Homo sapiens: one gene and its partner. The protein of the gene in region 1 purifies or fractionates together with the protein of each later gene. This does not show direct contact. Each region holds a gene or a part of one and is shown on either strand. Other genes may lie near its edges.

The links.
Region 2: the proteins of DLG3 (region 1) and ARHGAP17 purify together in Homo sapiens (co-immunoprecipitation; 2 studies listed by BioGRID and IntAct, with this or other methods). This does not show direct contact.

What each region holds. Positions count from the first base shown.
Region 1 is NC_000023.11:70,446,903-70,456,805, forward strand, and holds part of DLG3 (disks large homolog 3), read left to right. Parts: intron 1-2,010; coding exon 2,011-2,061; intron 2,062-2,456; coding exon 2,457-2,581; intron 2,582-2,787; coding exon 2,788-2,957; intron 2,958-3,266; coding exon 3,267-3,403; intron 3,404-3,736; coding exon 3,737-3,881; intron 3,882-4,964; coding exon 4,965-5,124; intron 5,125-5,389; exon of another isoform or gene 5,390-5,719; coding exon of another isoform or gene 5,720-5,853; intron 5,854-6,053; exon of another isoform or gene 6,054-6,404; intron 6,405-6,734; coding exon 6,735-6,891; intron 6,892-7,311; coding exon 7,312-7,414; intron 7,415-8,274; exon of another isoform or gene 8,275-8,361; intron 8,362-8,841; exon of another isoform or gene 8,842-9,200; intron 9,201-9,903. UniProt on the Homo sapiens protein: Required for learning most likely through its role in synaptic plasticity following NMDA receptor signaling.
Region 2 is NC_000016.10:24,926,954-24,936,856, reverse strand, and holds part of ARHGAP17 (rho GTPase-activating protein 17), read left to right. Parts: intron 1-1,217; coding exon 1,218-1,387; intron 1,388-5,452; coding exon 5,453-6,073; intron 6,074-7,196; coding exon of another isoform or gene 7,197-7,243; exon of another isoform or gene 7,244-7,244; intron 7,245-9,124; coding exon of another isoform or gene 9,125-9,132; exon of another isoform or gene 9,133-9,173; intron 9,174-9,903. UniProt on the Homo sapiens protein: Rho GTPase-activating protein involved in the maintenance of tight junction by regulating the activity of CDC42, thereby playing a central role in apical polarity of epithelial cells.

The DNA of each region.
Region 1 (9,903 bases):
CAGAGGCAAAGGTGGGGACTTCCTGGGGAGAAGAGCCCTCAGTTCTGGCCTTCTGTCTGTCCACACTTACTGCTTTCCCACATCCCTTGCCTTGGCCTCTTGCCCTTTCCAGCGAGTCCCTCTCTCTCCTTTGCCCCCTCTCTGTCCTGGAGGCCTTTCTCTCGCAAACACCCTCTTATGCTTGTCCTGCCCGGCTGGGAGACAGGTGGCAATCCCAGGCTGGGCCAGTTGGCCAAGGTTTCTTTGCCAGGGCTGATCCCTGGATGGCTCCTGGCCCTGAGAACAAGGTCCTTGAGTAGGGGTGGGGGCTAGAGCGTGGACCACTGGGAACGGGAAGCCTCTGGGTACCACTGGGGCTGGGCTTGAGGCATGGCTTGTCACATGTGGGCACACATGGTACACCAAATGCACACAAGAGCCACATGGGTGTCCCTTTGCTTATGTGTCTGTTGCATGGTACTTAAGGCAGCTGTGTTGGTTTCGGGTCTCTAAGGAGCCTTCAGTTCTTCTTCCTGGGGTCACAGACCAGGGTAAGGCTGTAGCTGGAGTCCTCCCACCAACTCCCACAGCTGCAGAGCCAGCCCAGAAATGGTGGAGGCATGATGAGCTAGTCCTCTCTCCCTCTCCTCCTCTCTGCTTCTTGAAGCCAAAGCTGTGTGGGGTGGAGGTGGGACGGGGGAAGCACAGCAGGACATGTGGAGGAGCCCCCACCCTGGTTTCCAGCTCCCCACTTCTGAGGAGGAGGCTAGAGGTCAGGGAAGGGACAACATAGCCAGAGAAAGGTGGGGGAGGGGTGCCAGGGTACCTGGGGAGACAGGCAAGAGGGCTTCTCCATTCTTGGAGGTGAAAGTGGGAGCCAGCAGGCAGGTGCTGCTTGTATGTCCAGAATCACATTTTCACTTGACAAATAGATACACACATGTCCTGTCTGGGAGGCCATCTCTGTGGGTTGGCCAAATCACCCCTGTGTTTCTGACCCCTTCCCTTGCCTCTTCTTGCATGGCTACTACATATTGAAAACCATGGACTCTGCTGCCAATCAGCCTGTGGGTCACCAACTTCTCCCTCATGGGGAATCTTGTCTACCCTGCTCCAGTCCCACCCGTGGCTTTGTCTCTGACTCCTGACCAGATCCCACCCTCGCCCTTTCTGCTGGGAAAAACAAAGGGCTCAGAATCAAAAATCCTTTGGTAGAAAATGGATTAGGACTTTGACTCCTTCTGCCTATTTGAGGAATTGGGTTCCTGGAGTCCAAGAAAGAGGTATAGAGTGAAGACTCACGAGGTGCTCCAAAGTGGGGCAACTGTCCTTTTTCCCATGAGCTCTGCTGGGGTACGGGGATGAGTGACCAAAACATCAGTGGCCTTAAGAGCTTACTGTAATCAAAAGAACACCTGGATATCCTATTGCTCTGTCACTAATTCCCAGTGTGCCCTTAGGCACATCCCATGTCTTCTCTGGGCCTCCGTGTCACCTACTGTCACATAAAGGGGATAGGACAAGATGATGTCTGCTGTCCTTCCAGTTCGGACACAGTGGGAGTCTATGATCCCCCAGTCAGGGAGAACTGTGGTTCAGAAGGGGAAGGGTTATCTGTCTAGGCCACTGGGTATCCCCTATGGACACTGGGTGTGGCATGGTTTGCCTGCCATGCTCCATCTCTGCCATCCCCCTTAGGCCAGGCCTGCACCCCTCCTAGTGAACCCTGAGACACTGAAGCACAGCCTCTCGGTGAGTGCACCACTGGCTGGCTCAGTCTCAGACAATTGATCTGGGCTAAATGAGCAGCTTGGTTTGGGCTGATATGGTTGGAAGCAAAGCAGGGATTGGTGGGGTGAGTGAGGAGCGGCCTCTTCCAGGTCAGCCTGTCCTCATCTGTGGCCAAGAGGTGACCTGGGGTGCACTTGGGCTCTTCTACTCTGTGGGAGTAGGGGAGGAGGCAGGTTGACTAAGGGGCAGATGGCTGGAAGGGCAGGGGGCACTAAGGGAACTGCCTGTGTCTCCCCCTAGGTGAATGGCAGTGATGGCATGTTCAAATATGAGGAAATCGTACTTGAGAGGGTGAGTCTGCCAGTGGGGAAAAGCGGAAAGGGAAGGAGAGGGTTGGAGCCAGGATAAGGGAGACCCCTGAATCATGGTTTCAAGACCCATGGGGGGACCTGCATTTAGAGGATGGTGAAACAGCGGCCCTCAGAGGCTGCTTCACTGCATCAATCAATCAACCCACTAACAAATATTAATTGACCTTGCTCACTGAGGCCTGGGGAATTGGGGAGGGGATGGGTTTCCCAAAATGATCAGCAGAGGCTGGGTGTCTGACAAATGTGCCCAGCCTGCCATGGCCCCTTCTGAGGCCTGGAGAACTAGCTCTGGGATATAAGGGGAGATGAGGTACCCAGAACTCTCCTTTGTGCCCTCAGAGTGAACAGACTGTGCCTTTCCACCCACTTCTGCAGGGCAACTCTGGCCTGGGCTTCAGTATCGCAGGTGGCATCGACAATCCCCATGTCCCTGATGACCCTGGCATCTTTATTACCAAGATTATCCCTGGTGGAGCAGCTGCCATGGATGGGAGGCTGGGGTGAGATGGCCTGGAAGCAGGGTTGTGGGTGGCAGGGACAGGATCGAGATGAGGGGAGGAAAGCCTGCCTGGCAGGATGACCCTTCCATTAGATCTGAGGGCGGGGTGGGAGGGCAGAGGAGGGGAGGACAGAGAAGTGGGAGGAAGCAGGAGAGGGGGTGGAGGGGTAGGGGCACAGTGTCATGCCTCTCGGGCTTCCCCCACAGGGTGAATGACTGTGTGCTGCGGGTGAATGAGGTGGACGTGTCGGAGGTGGTACACAGCCGGGCGGTGGAGGCGCTGAAGGAGGCAGGCCCTGTGGTGCGATTGGTGGTGCGGAGGCGACAGCCTCCACCCGAGACCATCATGGAGGTCAACCTGCTCAAAGGGCCCAAAGGTGCGGCCCTCCAGGTTCCTGTGCTCCAGCCAGAGCCTTAGGCCCCAGATCCCATCTTGCCCCATAGGGAATTGGAAGGGAATGGCCTTACTCCTTGCCTGACTCCCCCTGTTCCAACTCACAGCCTACTTTTTTGACCTCAGGCCTCACCCTTACTCATCTCAGGATGGCAGCTTAGCGTTTGGATCCCCCGGGGGGAGCTCCTGTGGGGCCAGTGGGTTGGCTGGGGGAGGGGGTTTGGATTTGGGATCGACAACACTTTAACCTCTCCTTGTGGCCCTCTCCCACCTCCTGCTGGCTCCCGCTCAGGCCTGGGTTTCAGCATTGCTGGGGGTATTGGCAACCAGCACATCCCAGGAGACAACAGCATCTACATCACCAAGATCATTGAGGGGGGTGCTGCTCAGAAGGATGGACGCCTACAGATTGGGGACCGGCTGCTGGCGGTGAGACAGACTTCATGGGGATGCCCAAATGGTAGGGTAGGGAGGAGGAGCTCCAGTACCCCTTACTCCGCCTAAACCTCACTCAGGGATGAGGCATCATGGGGGAATTTCAAGAGTTATCATCTGTGTTGTGTTTGCCCAGATACAAAGGCCCTAATTCTTTCTGTGGCCAGGGTCTTGCCCTATCCCCTACCTCCTGCCTCTGCTCCTCACAGCACTATACTTGGGCCTTTGTTAGCATGCTGTTGAATTTCACTGAAAAGGCATCCCTCGAGTTCCCTGGAGAAGCCTCTCCTTCTTCCAAGTCCCAGCCTGAGGCCTCTCCTCTTCTAGGTGAACAACACCAATCTGCAGGATGTGAGGCACGAGGAAGCTGTGGCCTCACTGAAGAACACATCTGATATGGTGTATTTGAAGGTGGCCAAGCCAGGCAGCCTCCACCTCAACGACATGTACGCTCCCCCTGACTACGCCAGCAGTACGTACTCATCAGCCCCTGTCCCTGGTCTAAAGCTCTGTCCCCTGGTTTCTGGAGGGGAAGAAGTTCATACCCTTTGTTAAGAGAGGGCAAGCAGCTTTGCTCAGTGGTGGCACTGTAGCAGCCAATAAGGTTTATCTGAGGCGCCATTATTGCTAATTGAAAACTTTGCTCAGTACCCCATCGTGAAGACTTGCCATAGAGTCAGCATTGGCAATTTTTGACAATTTCTATGGAGAGTGAATTTTAAAAAGAGGAGAGAGAGAAGCCGCAGAGGATAGTGCACAGAACTGAGTCCAGATCCCAGTTCTGTCTTTGTTTTTTTGTTTGTTTGTTTGAGACGGAGTCTTGCTCTGTCGCCAGGCTGGAGTGCAGTGGCACGATGTCAGCTCACTGCGAACTCCACCTCCTGGGTTCAAGCAATTCTCCTGCCTCAGCCTCCCGAGTAGCTGGGATTACAGGTGCCTGCCACCATGCCTGGCTAATTTTTTGTATTTTTAGTAGAGACGGGGTTTCTCCATGTTGGCAAGGATGGTCTCGATCTCCTGACCTCGTGATCCACCCACCTCGGCCTCCCAAAGTGCTGGGATTACAGGCTTGAGCCACCGTGCCTGGCCCCCAGCTCTGTCCCTTAGAGCTGGGTGCCCTTAGACAAGTCCCTTTCACCTGTTTTTTGTTTCCTCTTTGGCAAAAGGGAGCTAATGATGTATGTGCTGCCTTCCTCATAGGACTGCTGCAAGGATCAAATGAGATCATGGATGAGAAAACCCTTGGAAAACTGTATTAGGCTATAGAGATGTGAGGGATTATTATTAGTCACACCTCTAGTCATGCCTTTCTTTGTAGACTGCCTTGACTTCAGCTCTTTCTAAGACTCACAGGAGTGAGCCAAGGATTTAGAAAGGGACTGCGGAGGAGGAACCCTGGGTGGCGGGTGGATGGAGTGGGGAGGTGCGGCCTGAGGAATCAGCATCCCTTGGTCTCTTTTGCATCTGAAGTGGGGTGTGGGGGAAAGTCCTTGAGGAGTTTGGGGTACCTCCCTGGACCAGTCTCTGAACTTTTCTCTCCCTTTCTTGATTCCAGCTTTTACTGCCTTGGCTGACAACCACATAAGCCATAATTCCAGCCTGGGTTATCTCGGGGCTGTGGAGAGCAAGGTCAGCTACCCTGCTCCTCCTCAGGTTCCCCCCACCCGCTACTCTCCTATTCCCAGGCACATGCTGGCTGAGGAGGACTTCACCAGGTAAGACCCCGCCCCCAACATCCCATTCAATCTACCCAGAAATTGGGGAGGGGAGGAATCCGTTTCTGGCCGGCCACAGGCTCCTTGTAGTATGGCAAAGAAGAGGATAAGGCCCTCATCACTCCCGGCTTTGGGGTCCGAGGCCCTCTCTCAGGCCTTGGGGACCTAGAGAGGGACAGAAGTGGCTGCAGGGACAAGCTCTACCATCAGGGGGAGTGCCGAGTGAGTGGCCCCGGTCCAAAAGTGCAGATAAAGAAAGGATGGGGTGGAGCGTTTAGGGGGCTGAGGAGGCGAGGGCAGCGGAGTTTCCTGCCCTGAGATAGTTGCAGCCCGCTCTGCTGCAACCATTTCAAATTAGAGAAGAAAGCAGTTCAGCCGGTGGGGCTGGCGGGACTCTGACCGGCCCGGTGGCCTCGCCGGCAACGGCCCCGCCCCGCTGGCGGCAGCGGCGGCGGCAGCGGCTGCGCGGGGCCTGGAACTGGTCGGGCCGGCTGGGGTTCCGGGGGACAGGTTTGCAGGGTGGGGCCCGAGAGGCTGGCGGGCAGGCAGCAGTGGAGCCGGAAGGGTAGGCAGCCAGGGGAGAGAGAGAGGAGCTATGGAGAGGGCCCGCAAGTTCTCGGGCTCCGGCTTGGCCATGGGCTTGGGCTCCGCCTCCGCTTCGGCCTGGAGGAGGGCTTCGCAGAGGTGGGCCTGGCCGCTCCGCTCCCTGCGGCCCGGAGGGGATGCCAGGTAGGAGTGGAGGGCTAGGAGCAAGAGCATCCGGGACTCAGGGAGGGAGTCTCGCCCCTGAGACTGGGAGCAAGAAAGGAAGAGTCTTGCGTGGGGCTTTGGGCTCCTCCGAGGAAAGATGCTTGTAACAAGTGAAGGCGGTGGGCCGGGAACGTGCCCTGGGAGTTGGGCGGATGACACTGTGACCTTTTACAGAGGGCTTCCTTAGATGTGGTTAGTTTTATTCGCATTTCTCATGTGCTTGTCTGCTCTCTTCAGTTTGGATTCTAAACTCCTTTTGGGGACCTGGGATCCCCCTAAGAACCCAGGCGCTGCAACCCCCTGGGGCTACATAGTGTTAGCTGCTGATTAAATATGTTGTTGGGGCAGCAGGTAGGAGGGGTCATAGTTGATGGGTGAGATTTTGAGACTGCAGAAGAGTGTCTGTGAAGTAAGTGTGCACATCCTGTGGATGATGAGTGCAGTCAACCCCAGGGTGACTCCACTGCCCCTAACTGCTTCCTCTTCTTGTGGTCCAGGGTCCATCACACGGGTTGGTAGGATAGGAGAATCTGGGAAGGAAGAGGACCAGTGAGTGGGCCTGAGATTTGGTCTCTGGAGTTCAGGGTAGGGATTTGTTCACCCGAGAGAGTAGGGGACTGTCCACTGGGAAGTTGACTGCAAGCCCTCGGGAAGAAGGGAGGGAAGAGGAACTGAAACTTGGCACCTGACAGAACAGCAGCCAAGCAGGTTTCAGGAGACAAAGGGAGGCTCAGGGTATCATACATAGGGAACCACGTCCTTACTCCCTACAGCAAGTATGGACCTTGTTCCAGGCTGGCCCTCAAAGGACAACAGTCCATATCTACCTAGTCCTGACTCCTCCACTCCTTTCCCACCAGAGAGCCTCGCAAGATCATCCTGCACAAAGGCTCCACAGGCCTGGGCTTCAACATCGTAGGAGGAGAGGATGGAGAAGGCATTTTTGTCTCCTTCATCCTGGCAGGAGGCCCAGCTGACCTGAGTGGGGAGCTGCGCAGGGGAGACCGGATCTTATCGGTGAGGAGACAAAGGAGAGGTGGGAGGATGGGAACTGTGCCAGTCTAAAATGGAGAGCGAGAGACCTTACTTCCTCCGAGGAATGCTTCTTGAGATGAAGGGAGGGCTAAGGACTGGAGAAAACTTCTCTTGTTTTTATAGACATCCTTAGTGACAGGGACCGGGACTAGACTTATCTTTGAAGAGGAAATGAATGCCTATTGGATCTTAACCCTGATTGGCATTTGACCTTTATGAAGATAATTGTTACACTAGAGATGTCGTATCCTTTAGGCCTTGTTTTAGGGGCAAGGTTGGAATATTGGGAAAGGCATCTAAACAGGCTTAGGGGTGGGGTACCCATCTCCCTCTCCTAACTGCTAATGCAGAGGACCCTCTTTCTTGCTTTTGGGGTGGCTCACAGCTTCTCTCTTTGGACAGGTGAATGGAGTGAATCTGAGGAATGCAACTCATGAGCAGGCTGCAGCTGCTCTGAAACGGGCCGGCCAGTCAGTCACCATTGTGGCCCAGTACAGACCTGAAGGTAGGAGAAGGGAAGGTGGGAAGAGATGATGTGGGGGAGTTAGACTTATATTATGTGTTGGCTTTTTGCCATCCTAGGTAACAAAGCCACTTGACCAGGTCCCTTCTACCTAGAGCAGTAACCTCTTCCTCTCTCCTTTTCCTGCTGGGTAGGGGTTGGTTTGGGCGGCTTGAAAGCATCAATTAAGGCTGTGCTCAGAGCCTGCTGATGTGGGCTGCAGTGCAGGAGAAGGCCAGTAGTGGGCAGCAGCCTACTGGAAGCAGCATCCAAAGATTAGGGCGACTGGAAAAAGGGGAGGGGGCGGAGGGCCCACAGGAGAAGACTGGGAACTGTGTGCCCTGGAAGAGGAGAGCAGCTCTTGGTTAGAAGGACCTCAGGTAGAAGAGATCCGACCTCTTAAGAGATCTTGGGCCAAACCTCTGTGACCCCCACTCCCCTCCCCTCATCAAGATGACCGTGAAAGACCCATAAACGCGCTGAAAAGGTGATACTATGCCCTTGGGATAGGCCAACTGGAGTCGACTCCCTCCCCTCCGGGGGGCCTTCTTTGTATTCTCAGTGAGCAGTCCTTGGCTGGGGCGAATGGGCGGGGCTGGTCATGCAAATAAAGGCGTTTGATTGGCTGGGGCCAACCGAGGCCCAGGTGCCGAGGTGAGCCGCGGGAAGGCGCGCCCTAGCCTGCGGGCCAGTGGAGTGGCCATTGGCCGGCTGAGGGCGGCCTCCAGCCGCATGCCCCGCCCCCTGACCCAGGAGGAGGGCGGCAGGCGCCCCTCCTTCCCCCCATCGCGCGCCTCAGGCGTCTCCTCCTCCTCCCTCCTTCCCCCTCCTCTCTCCTCCCCTCCTCCCGCGCGCCCCGCTTTGTGTCCGTGGTCTCCCGCGCGGGACGGAGGGACTGGCCGGAGCTGGCGCTTTCTCAGCACTAGATCTGGACTCCGACCCGGCGCCAGGTGAGGTGGGGCGGACGGGGGTCAGGCCCCCTCGCAGTCCCCCCTAACCTCTCTACGGCTCTGTTCTCAGCCTCTTTTCCAACACTGCGTGCCCCAATTCTGCCCTCTCCCTCGAATGCCTTCGTTGCGTGCCCCCAGGCTCCTTCTGAGACCCTCCTCAGGGCCCCTCGGAGCGCCGCGCGGGGCTCAGCGCCCCCTCACCCTACACTGGGCCCAGTCTGGCCTTCACCTCTTAGCCATCACCTCTCCCCCACAGCGAGCTGTGCCCCCTTCTCACCCCAGGGCCTCTGTCCTGCCTCAGCCCCCTTCCTGCTGGCTGCTGCGCCCCCAAGCAGCTCCCTAATCCCTTGCCCTAGAGGAATTTTCTAAATCTTCCCCTCCCCCGACACCCATTTCTCCACCCAACCTGTCCACCTCTGAGAACAGCCGCGACCGGCTTGGTATTCTGCCCCCTCCCTTTTGTTTGCAAGGGATTCGTACCATTCCCGACTTCTTTCGCCTCCTCCTCCCCTTTGTCCCCTAGGGCTGCAGCGCCTGGGCTCCTGGGACACCTAGGCCCTGTGGGCCGATTACTAAGGTGGAAGGGACCGACCTCTCCCTGGCAGGTGCTCTATTTCCGCGATGAGAGGGGGAGAGGCTGGGAGCCCCGTCGCCAAGCCGAAAGGGATGGAAAGCGCCTACCTTTGTCCTTTCCGTTCCCCTCCCCCCATGCTCCTTCAGTGCCTCAAGATCCTGAAGGGAAAGAAGAGAGAGCCTGCGACCTTTTCCACGAGGCTCTTCTGATCGAGGACAGAAGTGCAGGGAGGTAACTCACAGGAGAGAGAGCTTGTTGGTCTGAGGTAATGAGAAAGAGGGATGCAAATGGACACTTTGAGTCATTTCTCTCCTTGTTTGGTTTTCAGCTTACTGATCAGGAACGCACCTTAGGGATATTGTTTTTTTATGATTTATGTGTGTGCTGTTCGCTTTCCAGTACAGAGCTAACCGTCTGATTTTTATTAGCAACTAATATTTGTGCATTTCATGCCCACAACTTAGACAACACAGGTTCTGCAAAGGAAATGGTTTTTCTTGCGTATTTGTGTGTGTATGTTGTAGGAGAAATTGATGTTTCTTTCGGTTTTGCTCTCTGATGTTGGGCACATGGAAACAATACTGTGAATTGTGTGTGGTGGGGGTATGCTGGATACTAGTGACTACATATTTCTATGACTTGTTAGGGGAATGCAACTGGCTTGCATAAAAAGCTGCAGGTTGTCCAGGGTAAGGGGATTCCTGCAGTGTTTATTGCTCTCTGAGCATATTTCTGAGAGTTTATAATGTAGGTTGAGGTGCTGTTTTATGCTAGTTCTTTCTACTACTTGCCAAATAAGGCCTTTCTTCTCTTAGGATTTAGGTGAACCACTGTTGTTAAGGCTCTGCCACCCCAATCAATCTTACTTCCTCCTTTGGTTTGGTAAATCCAGCAAGTCCCCAACATGCAAAAGCTTTTTTTTTTTTCCCCTTTTGAAAACAGATCCCTGGAGACTGGTCCAGAGGGAC
Region 2 (9,903 bases), on another chromosome or scaffold:
ATGAGCCACCATGCCCAGCCAATTTACATATTTTCATTTCCTTGTGACATTCCATTTGTTTAATCAAGGCTAAATGTATTATTTAAGACAATAATTAGTCTTAATGCAGAAGGACAAATGGAATGTCAGTTACTTTGCTTTTTTTTTTTTTGAGACAGCATCTCGCTCTGTCAGCCAGGCTGGAGTGCAGTGGCATGATCTTGACTCACGGCAACCTCCACCTCCTGGGTTCAAGCGATTCTCCCACCTCAGCCTCCAGAGTAGCTGGGACTACAGGCATGCGCCACCACGCCTGGCTAATATTTGTATTTTTAGTAGAGACGGGGTTTCACCTTGTTGGCCAGGCTGGTCTTGAACTCCTGACCTCAAGTGATCCATGTGCCTCAGCCTCCCAAAGTGCTGGCGTTACAGGCGTGAGTCACTGTGCCTGGCCTGCTGTTTGTTTTTTATACTGTATTCTGTAGGTATTTTTATGTACATTACACTAATGTTATTCACTCTTTGGTGACCTTGACAAAATGGAGCTACAGAGTTTGGTATAAAAAGTTCTGGGCCAGGAAACAGGAAGCCTGAATTCTGATCTCTATCCTGCTGCTACCAACTCTGGACTTCGAGTAGTCATTTAGCCTCTGAGTTCTCCTTCTTCAGTCCAAGTTATTGATAATAATCAAGCCCTTTATCATTTAGGGTCTTATTTTGCCATGGCTTTTGCTTAGTTTTGTACAGTGTATATGTCAACATGTAAAAGCCATTTCATGGTATTAAGTACTGCCCAATTTAAGTCCAAACGCAGTAGAACTGAAAACTCCGCATTGGTTGCTTTGAAATGGTCTCTCTGATGATACTGGAGTGGCAGAGTCGTTGGAGTCCAGTCTGATGCAACGAATCTCATAAAATAAATAGTCCTATAGTCCCGGCTACTCAGGGTGCTGAGGCAGGAGAGGATTGCTTGAGTCCAGAAATTTGAGACCAACCTGGGCAACATAGCAAGACCTCATCTCTTAAAAAAAAAATGGCACCAAGTAAACATTAGCTCTTTATATGGCACCAAGTAAACATTAGCTTTATAAGCCCAGTGTGAGCTAGTTAGAATTTCAGATCCTTTTCCTGCCTGCCGAAGTGAAAACTCTGCTTGGAATCTTATGTTTTATGTGCAGTATGTTCAGATTTTCTAGCTGGGATTGTCTGACGTCTAACTTGACTTTTACTCCTCTTAGTCCTCCCAAACCGAAGGACCCTGTATCTGCAGCTGTGCCAGCACCAGGGAGAAACAACAGTCAGATAGCATCTGGCCAAAATCAGCCCCAGGCAGCTGCTGGCTCCCACCAGCTCTCCATGGGCCAACCTCACAATGCTGCAGGGCCCAGCCCGCATACACTGCGCCGAGGTAAGCAGCCACCGTCCTCCTTGCCCTCAGGGAAGCCTGTGCAGACCTCCTTAAGTTAGTGCAAGGATTCAGATGGTGAGGTTTGTGGCCAGATCTTTTCTATGTCTGTTGTAAAATCCCAAGCAGAAAATTCAGTCATTCAAGAGAAAAGTCATTAAAGAAAAAGGAAAAAATAGAGAACAGAAAAGCAGACATTTAGTTTTTCCTTAGGCGTGACAAAGCTTAACAAACAGTCAGTTCTGCAGAAATGCTCCCAGTTTTCCTGGTGTCCCAAGCCCTCGCTCTGTTTGGAGACTACCACAGCCTCTGTACTTCTCAGCTTTGTGGGTCTGGGAGGCACTTTTGCTTCGGAATTGGGGTGAAGGCTTTCTAGGTCCTGATTAACAGAATCTGAACTGCTCCCACCTGTCTTCCCTGCAGTCCTCCACCCAGCAGCCAGGGGAATTGCTTTAAAACTCCAAGCAGATCATGTCGTCTCTTGGTTAAACTCTTCAGTGGCTTCCATGCGAACTTCTCACCCTGGGTTCTCTGTGCTTTGGTGGGGCCTACCTCTGAGCCCAGAGCTTACACTCCCTCCTCTCAACACACTCCACTCTTGGTTCCTTGAATGAACTAAGTTCATCCCCTCCTTAGGGCTTCCAGAACATTCTGTCCCATATCTTCACATGGTTTCTTCTTACCATTCAGGTCTCACCTCAAAAATCACTTCTTCCAGCTGGGCGTGGTGGCTCACACCTATAATCCCAGCACTTTGGGAGGCTGAGGCAGGAAGATCGCTTGAGGCCAGGAGTTGGAGACCAATCTGGTCAACATAGTGAGAGCCCACCTCTACAAAAAAAATTTTAAAAATTATCTGGGTGTGGTGACACACACCTATAGTCCCAGCTACTCAGGAGGCTGAGGCAGGAGGATCACTTGAGCCCAGGAGGTCGAGCCTGCAGTGAGCTATGATTGCACCACCGCACTCCAGCCTGGACAACAGAGTGAGACCCCATCTCTAAAATAAAAAAGAGAGGCCAGGCGCAGTGGCTCACACCAGTAATCCCAGCACTTTGGGAGGCCGGGGTGGGTGGATCACTTGAGCCAGGAGTTCAAGCCTGGCCAACATGGTGAAACCCCATCTCTACTAAAAATACAAAAATTAGCCGGGCATGGTGCTTGCACGCCTGTGGTCCCAGCTACTCAAGAGGCTGAGGCAGGAGAATTGCTTGAACCTGGGAGGCAGAGGTTGCAGTGAGCCAAGATTGTGCCACTGCACCCCAGCCTGGCCAACAGAGCAAGACTCTGTCCCGAAAAAAGAAAAAAAAATGGATTAAATTCACTGTGTCTGTCTATAGAAGCATGGTCTTTACAAAGCACTACACAAATGTTAGTGGAATTTCTACAAATCATAGGCAGGGAGGCAAATCCGAGTCCACTGCTTGGTTGCAGACCCCCACTTTATTCTTCTTCAGGCTGCCTCTCTGGGCCCTGTCATCTTATCAGGATCTCAGCTGATCCTTGAGGGAAGTTAGTCTTCTGGACCTAGATTCCAGGTGTGACTCTGGTTTTGGATTAAGAAGACTCTTTTCCTTATAGCCGCATTCAGAGTCTTTCATGCTTCCCGAAATCACAGCTCCCAGGCTTCTTCGCAGGATGGGTTTGATTCTTTTTTCCTTCCCCACCCCCTGCGCCTCTGAGGTGGTCTCAGACAAGGCCTCCATTTCTCCCAGCCCCCTCCCCCTGACACTTTGCTCCCACGCTCCCTCTCCCCATCCTCTTCACACCCTTAAATTTCAGGAACGAGCTTTTATTCAGTATGACTTTACAATTAGTATTGCTTAGAACAGAAAACTAGACTTTTTTTTTAAATGCCGATGGCAGTCTGGAGTACAGCTAATGTAAGCTGGTTGGTGGTTTCTGAGTTCCAGGGTTGAAAGTTCCAGACCAGTGTAGCAGAGTAGACTTTACCCTTTTTTCTTTTTTTTTTTCCTTTCTTATGTTTTTTAGAGGCAGGGTCTCGTTTTCTCACCCATGCTGGAATGCAGTGGCGTGATAATAGCTCACTGCATCCTCCAGCCACTGGACTCAAGTGATCCTCCCACTTTGGCCTCTCAAAGTGCTGGTACTACAGGCACATGCCACCATGCCTGGCTGCTTTATTTTTTTGTAGAGTCGGGGTCTCACTGTGTTGCCCAGGCTGGTCTTGAGTGATCTTCCTGCCTCAGCCAGTCAGAGTGCTGGGAATACAGGCATGAGCCACCGAGACTTTACCCTTTTCAATCCTGAATTCTGGGCCCTGTAAACAGGCAGCCGGGGAATAGGGGAAGGAGGAAGAGGAAAAAGCATTCAGGGAGTCCACATGTCATGGGCAGGAGTCTCAGTTCTGCCCCTTACTAGCTGTGTGACCTATTACCAAACACTGGCCCTCTTCAAGCCTCAGTTTTCTTCTCTGTGAAAATGGGGATAACAGAGCTTGCCCTGCAATGAGCTTATGAAACTTGAATGAGATAATTTATATAAATTATAATGTGCATAATTTATATAAAAGGCCTTACTTGGTACTGGTGATAAGAGTGATACATGTTCATTTCTTTCCTTCATTTCCTTCTCCTTCTTTCTTAGAGAACCAGTAGGATCTTAGCAGAGTTTGAAAAAGGCTAAAATCTCTCCTTTCCCCCTACCCCTCCCAGCCCAAAACCAGAGCCCCAGATCTGTTGTTTTCCCTCCTGCCCTCATCAGTCCCAGGTTCCTATCCCTGATCTCAGCTGGTGTAGGGAGGAGAGTGATGTGATTCAGCTCTCTTTAGAGAAATAATTCTAAGGCAACTCTTCCAGATTTATTCATGCTTTTGTCCAGGACATATCTATTAACTCAAATGGTTGCGGAATTGGTAGAAATTCTGTTATTAAGACCAATCAAACCAATCAAACTCTCAAGGAGAAGGTGGCTTGGGATCAGGGGTCATGTTATATCAGGGTGAACTAGTCATGCTTGGTGGTCCCTCCTGGCTGTTCTGCCTCTTTCTGCGTCTTCCCATGGGGCCCTAATGAGGAGGCTGCTAAGTGGGCTGAGGGCAGCACTTCCGTGTCATTGGGGTGGCCTCTGTTAACAGTTTTCTTCTTATTGAACTTTCAAAACGATAGGCCTTTAAAGCCCTTTCAAATGTGCATAATGTACTTAATTTTTAAAATAAACTTGTTTGTTTGGAGTAATTTTGAATTTATAGAAAAGTTGCAAAGATAATGCTGAGAGTTCCCATATGCCCCTTACTCAGTTTCCCCTGTTGTTAATGTGTTACATGACCATGGCACATTTACCCCAGCTCAGAAGTCAACATTGGGCTAGTCCCCCCATCCCCCCCAACTTTTTTTTTTTTTTTGAAATGGTCTCACTCTGTTGCCCAGGCTGGAATTCAGTGGTGTGATCACTGCAGCCTTGGACTTCCCAGGCTCATGGGATCCTCCCACCTCAGCCTCATGAGTAGCTGGGATTACAGGCGCATGCCACCACGCCCGGCTAATTTTTGTAGTTTTTTGTAGAGATGGGGTTTTGCCACGTTGCTCAGGCTGGCCTTGAACTCCTGCACTCAAGTGATCCGCCTGCTTTGGCCTCCCAAAGTGCTGAGATCACAGGCGTGAGCCACTGCACCTTGCGGTTCATTACCATTAACTAGACTCCACATTTTGTTCAGATTTCCCTAGTTTTTCCACTCATGTCCATTTTCTGTCCCAGGATCTCATCCAGGAGCCCACATTATATGTAGTCATCGTATCTTCTTCGTCTCCTGCTGTCTGTGACATGTTCTCCGTCTTTCTGTGCTTTTCTATGGCCTTGATGGTTTTGGAGAGTACTGGTCAGGCATTTTGAAGAAAGGCCTTCAATTTGTGTTTGTCAGATGTTCTTCTGATGGGTTATGGGCTTTGGGGAGGAAGACACAGTGTGGTGCCCTCCTGACCACCTCTCATCAGAGGTACATGATGCTGGTGTACCTTATTACTGGTGATGTTAAATTTGGGCTCCTGGCCAGGGTTGGTTGCTGCCTCACTGTTCCTACTGAAAGGTGTTTTTTCTCTTTTTGTGCAGCTGTTAAAAAACCCGCTCCAGCACCCCCGAAACCGGGCAACCCACCTCCTGGCCACCCCGGGGGCCAGAGTTCTTCAGGAACATCTCAGCATCCACCCAGTCTGTCACCAAAGCCACCCACCCGAAGCCCCTCTCCTCCCACCCAGCACACGGGCCAGCCTCCAGGCCAGCCCTCCGCCCCCTCCCAGCTCTCAGCACCCCGGAGGTACTCCAGCAGCTTGTCTCCAATCCAAGCTCCCAATCACCCACCGCCGCAGCCCCCTACGCAGGCCACGCCACTGATGCACACCAAACCCAATAGCCAGGGCCCTCCCAACCCCATGGCATTGCCCAGTGAGCATGGACTTGAGCAGCCATCTCACACCCCTCCCCAGACTCCAACGCCCCCCAGTACTCCGCCCCTAGGAAAACAGAACCCCAGTCTGCCAGCTCCTCAGACCCTGGCAGGGGGTAACCCTGAAACTGCACAGCCACATGCTGGAACCTTACCGAGACCGAGACCAGTACCAAAGCCAAGGAACCGGCCCAGCGTGCCCCCACCCCCCCAACCTCCTGGTGTCCACTCAGCTGGGGACAGCAGCCTCACCAACACAGCACCAACAGCTTCCAAGATAGTAACAGGTAAGTAGGACATCAATGCCCGTATTTCCTCGTCTGCTCTACATTGCTTTTGTACTACTACATTTTATTTAAGCTTTGATTTATGCCAGGTGTCAGCAAACTACACCCGCAAGCCAAACCAAACCTGTCCTGCAGCCAGTTTTTGTCATTAAAGTTTTATTGGAACACAGCTACACCCATTTGTTAACATATTGTCTGTGGCTGCATTGGTGCTGAAACAGCAGAGCTGGGTAGTCGTGACCAAAGATCCTGTGGCCCACAAAGTTGGAAACATTTACTGCCTGGTCCTTTAAGTTTGCCGACCCCTGACTTATAGTTGCTTGTGTGTTTAAGACCTATGTACGTTTACATTTTTCTCAACATAATGGCTTTTATTCCAGGTGGAAGGTATTTTACAACACGAGCATGAACTTTATTTCTTAGTGAATTCCTCATTAAAATGCTTAAACAGTACTTCTAAGAGTAAAAGTGTTCATATTAAGTACAGAATTTCAGGTATAACTTTAAAAAACATGATTTATGCCAAATTGAATGCTCCAGAAGGGAGATCTCAGGGCACTGTCATGTTCTAATGGCTTGGGAGGGAAGAATCAAGATTTTCCTGTAGACCCAGTGGGAACCTGTTTGGAAGTGGTGGTGATTGTACAGGTTTTAGTGGGCTACCTAATGGCATATTTTTAATAGTCTAGAACATGACCATTTTATTTAACATTTCAAGAATATTTCCATCCCAAATGCTCTAATTTATTATTTAATTTAAGGATGAATATGGGGGTTTCTAGTGTGTTTTTAAAAATGGTAATTAGGGGCCTCAAATAATTTCTTACAGCAGCCTAGTTTAAATTGTTCTAAGTGGAGGCACTTTCGGAAAAGAAGCTGAAATACACCTCTGGGCTTTCCAACCATATTGAGTGACTTTGCAGCTAAAAATGTGCCAAGGTTTCCATTAACCCAAAGGGTGACGGTTAACTGATTCTAACAGCTTTTGATAACTTTTTTCAGGAATATAATACATAATTTGCACATGTTATAAATGGTTAATAACTTTTTTTCTGATGCCATCAGAGCTTTTATTTTGAAAACAACAAAGCCATGTTGGTTTGTTTGTTTTGTTTCCCAATAGATGCCCTTCCTAGTGCCCTCACAGGTGGGGAAGGTTTCCAGGACTAAGGTCTGTAATGGCCCCGAGCAGCTTGCCCCATAGCTCGCCCCACAGCTCCAAATGCTCCTGCTTAGCCGTGTTTTGCATATGTGCTTTTGACCATGTGCTCAGGAGCAGCCGTTTGACCGTGTGCCCTGACAGCCAATAGGCCATCCATTCTGTAGCATATTGACATTTCTTTATTTTTATCAGAAGCACTTTGAGCTGCAGTGCTTCAAATTCGAGGAGTAGATGTCAGTAGATCAAGAGCCTGATTTCAAGCTGCTCTTGAAGAGTATCTTCTTTCTTAGGGGCCAAGCACAGTGGCTCGTGCCTCTAATCCCAGTACTTTGAGTGGCTGAGGCAAGAGGATTGCTTGAGCTCAGGAGTTCGAGACTGCAGTGGGTAGTGATTGTGTCACTGCACACTGCAGTCCAGCCTGCATGACAGAGTGAGACCCTGCCTCTTTTTAAAAAAAAAAAAAAAAAGGAATATCTTCTATCTTTTTGGTGAGCCTCTTAGCAGCAGTCTACTCTTCCCAGTGTGATTTACCTGTCACTGATGGGCTCACCAGCATCCAACCAAAGAGGACCCAGGTGCAGTCAGCACGGGAGGAAATTGTGTCCTTTGTGTCTTGAGCTTTAATTTTAAATTTTTGTATTTTAAGTGCAAGTTAACTGCATGGAGCTTCTTAATTTGATATTTTAAATTCTCAAGACCAAAAAATTAAAAAAAATCTTCCGCCAAATACCCTACACTGAATTATTTTAAATTCCTTTGCATCCTAGCATGCTTACGTTTTGCTTTATTAAACCATATGAGCTTTTTAAAAGGCACTGTGAGCTCATCTAAGTCTGCCGCTGGGTCTACATGTGGACAGCATAAGGCCCTCATCATATGTACAGCTGCTTTAATCAGCTGGCCTGAGCCTTAGGCCTACTGTGGGCCCCTTAGCCAGAGTGCTCACAGCTTAGGTCTGAGTAAGACTTTCTGTAGGAACCGTAAGTGGAAAACCAGAGTGTAGCCTTCAAAACAGGGAGGAGGCCCGGGTGCGATTCCACAATTTCATGCTTGTGACACACCAAAATGTTATTATCAGATATTTCCTTTTATTTAAATGAAAGATTGCAAACCAGAATTATGCCTATTTTTTAATACCATTGTTACCCGGGGTGTATTTATTCCACAAGTTTAGTTTACTGATCTGCTACAACACTGTAATATACTGCCTGTAATTATTAGATAAGTGAAATTTTACATTAAAAATGTGTTTCCCGAAGATACTAGCTATTTAAAAACCGGTCTATGCTATGAATTCTCCTAACTCAAGAAATTCCAGGTTACCAGAGTTATCTTTGTATTACAGAATTAACCTGTACTATCTTAAAATCCCCTGGCCTCCCACTGAAAGTACACAGAAGGCCAACATTTAGAATTTTTTAATCTGCTAGTATTGATCATACTGCTATTAACCATTCTTGGATGTAGCCATTGGGTTTTTCAAGGAGGAAAAAATATATAACTTCCTTGGACAGGATGGTCCTTTATTATGACATAATGTTTTCACTTAGAAAACTTTAGATGGACAAATTCCTGAAAACAGGTTATTCCTTTAGAATTGGATTAAGTTAGAGTTTTAAAGAGTTGGGTTAAGGCTAATGGGATTAAGATAAACTCTTGGGGGGAGATTATTGCTGCCAAGCAGGTTTGGCAGCCAACTTCTCACAGCTCAGCACCAGCACTGGAGGATGCCGGCATTCTGGCATCATTTTGAGTCTCCTGTTAATTGTGACTCTAGAGAGCAGTAAGAGTTTTAATTCCCATGTAAAAGAGTTTACATCTTGCTATTTTTGAAGTAATAGATTTTAGCAAAGAGTATTCTAATTTAAACATTTTATTAAATAATTTAGATGTATGACCTGCCATATTCAGTAAGAACTGAGATTGGAATATTTAATGGTAAGGAAAAGGCACCTGATTGGCCAATGCATTTTTGCTACTTGATGATCATATTTGTGCACTCATGCCTGTTACTAACTGGCCACCCTAACCCTGCCTGCTTGCATCCCTACTAATAGTGCATGCACTGAAGGAGGACTGGCTTTGTTGATGCTTGCTGCAATGATTCGGAATACTAAGTGTGTACCCAGATGTGGAACAGGTGGTCACAGGGCTGTCCTTGTTACTTCTTTAATTTCCATTCTTTTCCATATCAGGCAAGCTTGAGGTATAGTAGGAAGAACACACATTATGGAGTCAGACCTGACTGAGTTAGAATTTCAGCTCTTGGTATAACATAGGCTAGGCACAACCTGGCTGATCTGTAAAGTGGTGACATCTGTCTAAATTGTTGAAGATGAAATAAGAGAAAGTCCAAGATTATTCTGTTAGCCAGTTACAGTTCTTAATATACGCGCAATCTCGGCTCACTGCAAGCTCCGCCTCCCAGGTTCAAGCAATTCTCCTGCCTCAGCCTCCTGAGTACCTGGGATTATAGGCGCCTGCCACCACATCTGGCTATTTTTTTTATTTTTAGTAGAGACGGGGCTTCACCATGTTGGCCAGGCTGGTCTCGAACTCCTGACCTTAGGTGATCCGGCCTCCTCAGCCTCCCAAAGTGCTGGGATTATAGGTGTGAGCCATTGTGCCTGGCCTGCTATTTATCATTTTTATCTAGAAGAAAATAGTT